Linked DNA regions of Homo sapiens: region 2 is linked to region 1. The links come from fine-mapping of genetic effects on gene expression. A gene starts in region 1. The other region holds a variant in brackets. All regions are shown on one strand. Distances are between the middles of the regions. Region 1 holds the start of SIGLEC12 (sialic acid binding Ig like lectin 12). Region 2 overlaps SIGLEC6 (sialic acid binding Ig like lectin 6).

Region 1 (4,000 bases):
TCTGGCACCTCCAGCCTGTATCTTGACAGTAGGTCCTGGGACGCTGTGGAGAAACGAGGGTCAGCCCAGCCCCCACTGTCCCTCTCTTCATTTGCCCATAGCAGGGGCAGCAGCATCTCTGAGGCAGAGGCTTCCTGGGCTCCCTGTGTGAGCAGAGAAGGGGGAGGGAGAGGAGGGGCAGGGCTGTGGGACCCACAGGGGGCTGGAGAGGAGCTGGAGACCTCAGCCCTGCATGGAAGAGAAACTGCAAACCCACATGCTATAGGAACTCATTCCCTCTGCACAGAGTGAAGGAAACCCTAAAGCTCAGAGACCCTAGAGACCCACCCAGGGAGGAGAAGAGACCGTGTCCCGCCTCCTACCTCCGGGCTTCCCTGAAGCACCAGGGCCTGCACCAGACACGTAGGTCCTGCCCTCCCGGCCTCTGGACCATCGTGGAGGTCCCTCCTGTCTTTTGAGCATCTAAATGTGGATCTCCGAGGACCTCGGGGCATGAGAGATGGAGGGGCCGTGTGCTGAGTCTCCCTGTCCAGGCTCAGGTGCCTCTGCTGCCCTTGGTTTGCGCCAGGAAGTGCTTCCTCCCTGGCCTGGCCTGAGAGAGTCACGGGGTTGTGTAGACCTAAGGCTCTCAACTGGGGAGGACTTAACCCCCCAGGACGTTTGACAATGTGTGGAGATAATTGTCTCGCTGCATGGGTGGGGTGGGTGCTTCTGGCATCTGGTGGGGAGAGGCCTGGGATGGTGCTAAACCCCGGCCATGCCTAGGACAGGCCCCAAAACAAGGAGTCATAAGGCCCCACATGCCACAGTGCCAGCGTCAGAGGCAGGATGAGGATGTCAGGCCTGTGGGTCAGGGCTGGTGAGGGGAGGGGCTTGCAGGATCAGGAGGGGCATCCAAGGTGCGGTCCTGGGGAAGCTCAGGCTCTGGTCCAGCTCCTCCCCTGAGTCCATCACCCCCGGCCCCCTCCCAGGACATGTGTCCCGTCTCAGCCGTGCCCTAAAGCCCTCATCACATTTGCCTTTGGCCTCTCTTGGAGCCCGTGCCTTACCTGTCACATTCACAGAGAGCTGGTCATATTTATAATTCCATTTCATATTTCCTCTCTCTACACAAAAGACGTATGTCCCTGCATCACTCTCTCTGGTGTCTCTGATGCTCAGGGTACAATCCTTGTTCTGTGGGTCCCCAAGGAGGTGGAATCGGTCCCGAGTCTCCTCCTGCACTGCTCGAGCTGGGTTGTTTGTGGCCACTGGAATGTTCCGGCTTACATGGTCCCCTGCCCGGAACCAGTAGCCATGAACTGGATCGGAGGCAGTCCAGCCATTTTGGGGGTAGGAGAAGGAGCAAAGCACAGAGACACACAGGCCCTCCTGCACCGTCACGGACTTCTGCATTGTCAGCAGGTAATCCTTCTGTTCCTTAGCCCCCACTCTCCCACAGAGCAGGGGTGGCAGCAGTAGCAGCAGCAGTAGCATGTGTCGGGTTGGAGGTGCCAGGGTTGCTGAGGTAAGTCTGTTCCTCAGGGTTCTTCTCTCAGGAACTGAGAACTCAAGATTTCGAGGAAGCCGCACAGGAAGTTGGGGGTGGGTTCTGAACGGTGACCTCACAGGAGGAACTTCACACACAGACACTGTCAGGGCCGGGTCACCCCTGGAAGATCCACCGTCCACTACCCCGTCCACTCCTGGGGACCCTGAGGCCAGAGAGGATGAAAGACTCACCCAGATTCCAACCCCATGCAGGGCCCACCCCGCCCACTGCCTCCCTCTCAGTGCCCTTCCCCTTGGGTGATATTTTCCATAAGGTGAAAATGAGTCCCATGTGGCCAGACCTATGAAGTACAGGCTGTGGATGTCTCTCTGTAGGTCAGAGGTGACACTAGGATATAAGAGATGGGGGTGCAGGTGGGATGAGCAGGCAACCTCTCCTTCCTCCCTCAGCGGCCGTGAGGTGGAGTTCAACACAGCAGAGCTAGACACTGTCCCCAAAGAGTCACTGTGTAGTGGGGAGACACTGAGGCTCCTGATATCTGAGCTCTCCATGGCAGGAGCTTCAGTGGGGGTACCAGGCAGGGTGTGGTCGCTCTCTCCTATGTTGGGGAATCAGTCTCGGGAGGACTGAGCAGAGAGACACGGGGTCGTGGAGGTGAGGATTCCGTGTGTTGATACACACCAAAGACACAGAGAAGAGCCCAGTTCACAGGAGGCCTGAGAAGCTAAGGCTGTGACTGTTGTACAGTGAGGTCTGGAAGGGAGGAATGTTGGATGGGAAGGGACAGATTTCTAAAGGGGCAGGCGTTTCTCTCTCGGCCATGGCTCTCTGGGTTCAGGATGGGATCCTTCACCACTGCTCTCTCACAAGTCCTCCTTACTCCAGAGCATGAGGGGTCTGCTGGCCCTTTGTTCCTGCAGGCTCTGCTCCCAGGGTTTCAGGTGAACAGGAGACGTGGAGCGAGGACACCAGCCCTGGCGTGTCCACGCTCAATGATGGACAGGATTTCATGGGAGAAGAAATGCACCTGAATTCAGCAGAAGAGTTTTTGAAACTGTATGCTATGTACTGGGAGGAAGGTGGGGAAAATCCTGCAAGATTCGCCCTCCTTAGACCCATGTCAGCTTTTCTTGAAACAATGATTTTTGGGGAAATGTAATACAAGTAAATAAAAGTGCCACCTAAAAAAATGACTCAGTGATTTTCACCAAATTATCACTGTTCAAGAAATAGAACATCACAAGATAATTGCCAAATTTCTCCCATGAGATGAAGAAAGAAATTGCATTCATTTATTCAGCCCTGTGTTTCCCCTTCCTATAGGCCACATGCAGTTCCTCCTGAAGATGCCCCAGCCTCACTTTAATGATAATGGTCTCCTTGCTTTTCTATGTAGTTTTATCATCTGAGTGCACTGCCTTCAATACTATGGCTTTGCATAGGTTTTTCTAAAGACTATTTTTACATAAAAACCACAATCTGTTTTATTTTACTCAGCTCCATGGATCTTCCCATCCCCATGTTGTCCCCAATTGCCCATAACCTGGAGTAGAGTCAGTTGGCTGTGATAATTGAAAAGGAAATGTGCAGGATTGGGGCATGCATAGCTGCTCCTCTCCCTGACACCACTAATTCCTGCATTTGCAGCTTGTATCTCATCCTGCAGACCAATCTGCTCCTGGGCCCCCATCCTTGCCGTGTCACTTTCTTCCCGTAAGGACAGTTGCAGCATCTCAATGGGAAGAAGGGCTCGACCACGGCCCATCTCTTTCCCACAGTCCCCAGTTGGCAAAGAAAAGCAGAAAAATGGGAAGGAGAGACATGAGGAAGCCACAGAGAATCTGCAAAGGAAGAACGTTTGAACCACATATGACTCAGAGGAGCTGATGGGCCCTCTAGACCCACTTCCATAATTTGGAGAGGAAGATATTAAGGACCAGAGTGACAAGTGCTACAGCTACATGTCTCTCCTCAAAATTCATTTGTTGACCTTTGAACCCCCATGTGATAGTATTAGAAGGCATGGTGTTTAGATAGGTGGTTTGGATTAGCCTAATAGGATTAGAGCCTGATATGGTTTGGATCTGTGTCCCCACCAAATCTCATGCCGAATTATAGGCCTCAATATTGAAGGTGGGTTGTAGTGGGAGGTGGTTGGATCACGGGGGTGGATTTCTCATGAATGGCTTAGCACCATCTTCTTGGAGCTGTTCTTGTGAGAGTGGGTGAGTTCTAACAAGATCTGCTTGTTGTCTGTGTGCAGCATCTCCCCATTTGCTCTATCCTGCTACTCTGGCCATGTGACATGCTGGCTTCCCCTTTGTTTTTTGCCATGATTGTAAGTTTCCTGAGGAACTCCCCAGAAGCCAAGCAGATGTCAACATCCTGCTTCCTGTACAGCCTGCAGAACCACGAGCCGATTATTCCTCTTGTCTTTATAAGTTACCCAGTCACAGGTATTTCTTTATATCAATGGAAGAATGAACTAATACAGAAAATTGGTACAGA
Region 2 (4,521 bases), 23 kb after region 1:
AAAATGTTTTCACAATACCAAGTCATATATCCAACAATATCTGCAAATACCAAGAAAGATAAAAACAAAGAAAACCACACCTAGGCATGTCATAATCCTATTGCTGAAAACCAACAAGGAAAAGAAATGTGCCCTAGGGAAGCCAGATGATTGGACAACCCTGCTAGAGGATAAAAGTAGTAACTCTCCTCTCAGCAGTCTGATGGAACTGGGTAAACCAAATTTGATGTTCCAGGTCTGATAAGGAGAGGCCCAGTAAACACCTCAAACCTTCCGTTAGGACTCAAGAAGGGTTACAGATTAAAAGTAAGGGTCCGCTGGGCACAGTGGCTCACGCCCGTAATCCCAGCACTTTGGGCGGCTGAGGCAGGTGGATCACGAGGTCAGGAGATGGAGACCATCCTGGCTAACACGGTGAAAGCCCGTCTGTACTAAAAGTACAAAAAAAAATTAGCTGGGCGCGGTGGCGGGCACCTGTAATCCCAGCCACTCGGGAGGCTGAGGCAGGAGAATGGCGTGAACCCAGGAAGCGGAGCTTGCCGTGAGCTGAGATCGTGCCACTGCACTCCAGCCTGGGTGACAGAGTGAGACTCCATCTCAAAAAAAAAAAGTAGTAATATTTTAAAACTATCAAAAAGGCAAAAAAGGGAGATAAATATAAAAGGACAAATATAAATATAAAGCAGAGCAATCTGGTAGAATTAAACTGAGCCAAATCAATAATCACATTAAATATAAATGGTCTAAACACTCCAATTAAAAGGAAGATATTGGCAGACTTGATAAAATAGGTAGAATAAATGTGATATCTGTAAGACAGACACAATACATATGAAGGCACACATGTGTTAAAAGTAAGAGGAGGGAAAATGCATAACAAACAAGCACTAATATTAAGAACACTAGAGTGGTAATATTAAATCAGACAGTGTATTTTAGGAAAAGAAATATTACCAGAAATAAAGACATTTCATAATGATAAACAAGTCAATTCATTACAAGATATAAAAATCCTAAGTGCATATGCAACCAATCACAGAGCATGATTTAACAAAATAAATTGTAAAAATAAGCAGACAGAGAATCACTAAGGATATAGAAGGATTGAACACTAGTGTAAAATAACTTGACCTGATTGACATTTATAAAATACTACATCCAGTATCTTCAGAAAACACATTCTTTGCAATTGCACATGTAACATTCACCATGGTAGACTGATTTTTCATGTACTTATACTACCAGTTACTGAGATAAGAGTTTTTAAAAAATCGACTATGGAGTGTGCGCCACTCTAATGGAGAGGAGATAGAGTGGCAAATAAACATTAGCTCGCCAACTAGACCATCCAGAAGGACACGTTGACATTCATCAAGGAAGCAACATGACCCGGAGAGCAGAGAAGAATGAGACAAGGCAGCTCCCCAGGATTGGCATGGAGCCAAGGGAGGCTCCCCACGATGGGGAAACAGTGAGCAAGTGACAGCCCCCAAGGACCCACACTTCTGCCATGGACCTTTGCAGTCCTGGGCATGAGAGATCCCCTGAAGCCTCCAGACTGACATGGAGAGCTGTGCGGAGTCTGGGCAGGGCCACTGCTCAGGCCCATGTGGAGCCCCAAGGGCCTTGGACCTATGAGCAGCTGGGCACCAGGTGTCATAGCTTCACCAACAAGAGAGGCCAGGTTCTCTCACATGCTCTCAGGGTAGGGACCACATTTATGGTGCTGAGGAGCTGACAGATTGCATACCTCACCTCTGCTACAGCTCGCCAGAGAAAGCCCACTGGCCTGGGACCCCAGCATAGCCACCTCACCCCTGCCTGAGCACTTGGGCCAGTAGCAGCTCTCGACTTCTCTGGGACAGGGCTCCCAGAGGTAACAGACAAGTCTGCCATTTTTTCTGCCGCCACAGCTCCCACTCCTACTCCCCCGAGGCTGGAGAAGGAGAAAAGAGCATAAGGACTATCACTGGCCTCCAACACACCGGAACTGCTTTATGGAAAAGCAGCCAGACCGTATCAGTGTGGGTCCCTGCCCCTGTTATTCCTGACTGAGAAGGACATCCTGACCCGGGCCCCCAGCACAGCTGCCCTGCCCCCACCTGAGTTGGTGGCAGTTCTGTGTTTCTCTGAGGAGGATATCCCAGGGTCAACCCACAGGCTCTTTGCCATTGCCACTGCAGTGGTACTGCCCTTGATGTCTTCAGGCTGGGAAAAGAATAAAGACCTTGATCACTTTGCTGGCACCTCCAACACACTACAAGCACCATACAGAAAGGAGCCCAGTCTCGCTTCCCTGTGGG[A/C]CCCCTACTCCCTGCTCTTCACCAGGCAGGGCCCCTGGCTGGGGCCTGCAGCACAGCGGCCCCACCCCTAGATGAACGTTCCCATTGGCAGTGGCTCTGTGGCTTTCTGGGGTGGAGCTCTCAGAGCAGCTGGCAGCCCCTCTGCCATTGCTGCTGCAGCCATGCTGCCCTTGCTGCCCTCAGGCTAGGGAAGGAACAAAGAGCCTGATTTATTTGGTGGAACCTCCAGCATGCCACAGCTGCACTACAGAGAGGAGCCCAGTCTCTCTTCCCTGTGAGCCTCCAACCGTTACTCTTCACCAGGTAAGTCCCCCTGCTTGGGCCCACAGCACAGCTGCCTCAACCCAGGGTAATTATTCCAATTGGCAGCAGCTCTGCATTCCTCTAGGATGAAGCCCCAAGAGACAAGGAAAAAGCCCTCTACCACTGGCACTTCCAAGGTCCCTGCCCCTGCTGCTCCAAGCTGGGGAGGAAACAAAATGCCTGGGCTCACCACGGGGCTGTAGTGTGCAGCCTGAGTGCCAAGTCAAGATCTGTAGCCAGCACTTGAGTGAGAGAGGAGCCCACACTCTCAGAGCACTAGGAGGGAGCATGGCTGCAAATGTGAGGAACTACAGAGGATTCATGTGGCTGAACAAGAGCCTACCTGCCAGCCATTATGCTTAAGCACCACCTATTGGATCACATCCAAACTTCAACACCAAAAATACTTTGCTAATATACCCCACTGTGAAACTAAGGACAAGAATTTAGCAACAAATAAAGATCGTGCACAAAGCGTTGGCCTTCTGAAAACGTCCAGAAACAAAGCCAACTGACTATACTCAAATGACAGCACAAGTAAGGGAACATGAGCCCACATAAATGAGAAAGAACCAGTGCAAGGACTCTGGCAAATCTAAAAGCCAGAGTGTCTTCTTACCTCATAATGACCACACTAGTTCCCCAGCAAAAGTTCTTAACCAGAATGAAATGGATAAAATAACAGACGAAAAATTCAGAATCTGGATGACAATCAAGATTATTGAGATTCAGGAGAAAGTAGAAACCCATTCCAGGGAATCAAAGGAATCCAGTAAAACAATTGAAGAGATGAAAGATGAAATAGCCACCTTAAGAAAGAACCAAACTGAGCTGATAGAGCTGAATAACTCACTATAAAAATTTCATAACACAATCAGAAGTATTAACAGCAGAATAAACCAAGCTGAGGAAAGAATATCAGAGCCCAAAGACTGGTTCTTCAAATTAACTCAGGCAGACAAAAGAACAAAGAATTTTAGAAATGAACAAAACCTCCAAAAACTGTGGGATTATGTAAAGAGACCAAATCTACAACTCATTGGCATCCCTGAAAGAGAAGGAGAGAGAGCAAGCAACTTGAACAACGTATTGGAGGATATTGTCCACAAAAATGTCCCCAACCTCTCTAGAGAGGTCAGCATGCAGATTCAGGAAATTCAGAGAACCTTGGTAAGATAATATATAAGACAACCATTCCCAAGACACGCAGTCATCAGGTTCTCCAAGGTCAATGCCAAAGAAAAAATATTACAGGCAGCTAGAGATGCCTGTAATATTGTAATAGTGATGAGCAGTAATGACTTTGGGTTGATTTGGGCTGTCTACTCTAGGGCTTGTGTCTACCACATTCCTTGTACTTAATGCACCTGACACAGACTAAGTTTTGTTCATTTCTTTTTCTCAATAATCAATGCCATAAGAAAAGACTAATATTCCAGGAAATATGATAATCTGACATATGAGGAGCATAAATACCCCCAGCAAATTAACTGGAGTACGTATTTCATCAGAACTATTAGATTCAGTTCCAAATGTTACTATTTTAAATTATTGAAATCAATACTTTTTAAATTATTACTGAGTCAAAAATTTAAAATGTCACATGTGGAACCGCAGGGAATGTCAGGTGTTAATGAAGAAATGCCTCAGGGTCCTTACTTAGGGCAGCATTCAAAAGGGATAATGCTGAATGGAAATTAAGGTCTCTGTCACTCACCCTGGAGCCTGAGACCATGACGGGGTTCACATCATCCGTGTTTTGCACTGGCTGGGCTGCTTTCTTCCTTCTAGTCTTCACTCTGAGGGAACAGCCCTAAGCCTTTCAGCCTGGTTATTTGGAGCCTCTTTCCCCAAAAGAAAACCATCTCCCCACTCCCTATGGAGAGTACAGAAGTAATTAAGAGGTCCAGGTGCT

Evidence for each region. PIP is the estimated chance that this variant, and not a neighbour inherited with it, causes the effect. A credible set is the group of variants that fine-mapping cannot tell apart.
Region 2: its variant is the best candidate, but not a certain one, in a credible set for the expression of SIGLEC12 in kidney cortex (GTEx, PIP 0.60).

What each region holds. Positions count from the first base shown.
Region 1 is chr19:51,500,258-51,504,257 of GRCh38, forward strand. SIGLEC12 (sialic acid binding Ig like lectin 12) reads right to left here and starts at 1,543. Exons shown (of 8, transcript NM_053003.4): 1 at 1,050-1,543; 2 at 1-43. The coding sequence starts at 1,476.
Region 2 is chr19:51,523,424-51,527,944 of GRCh38, forward strand. It overlaps SIGLEC6 (sialic acid binding Ig like lectin 6), which reads right to left. Exons shown (of 8, transcript NM_001245.7): 7 at 4,324-4,405. Among named protein-coding and RNA genes, the nearest start is that of SIGLEC6, 6.0 kb to the right of the region's middle. The variant A/C (reference allele first, on the strand shown) is at 2,304.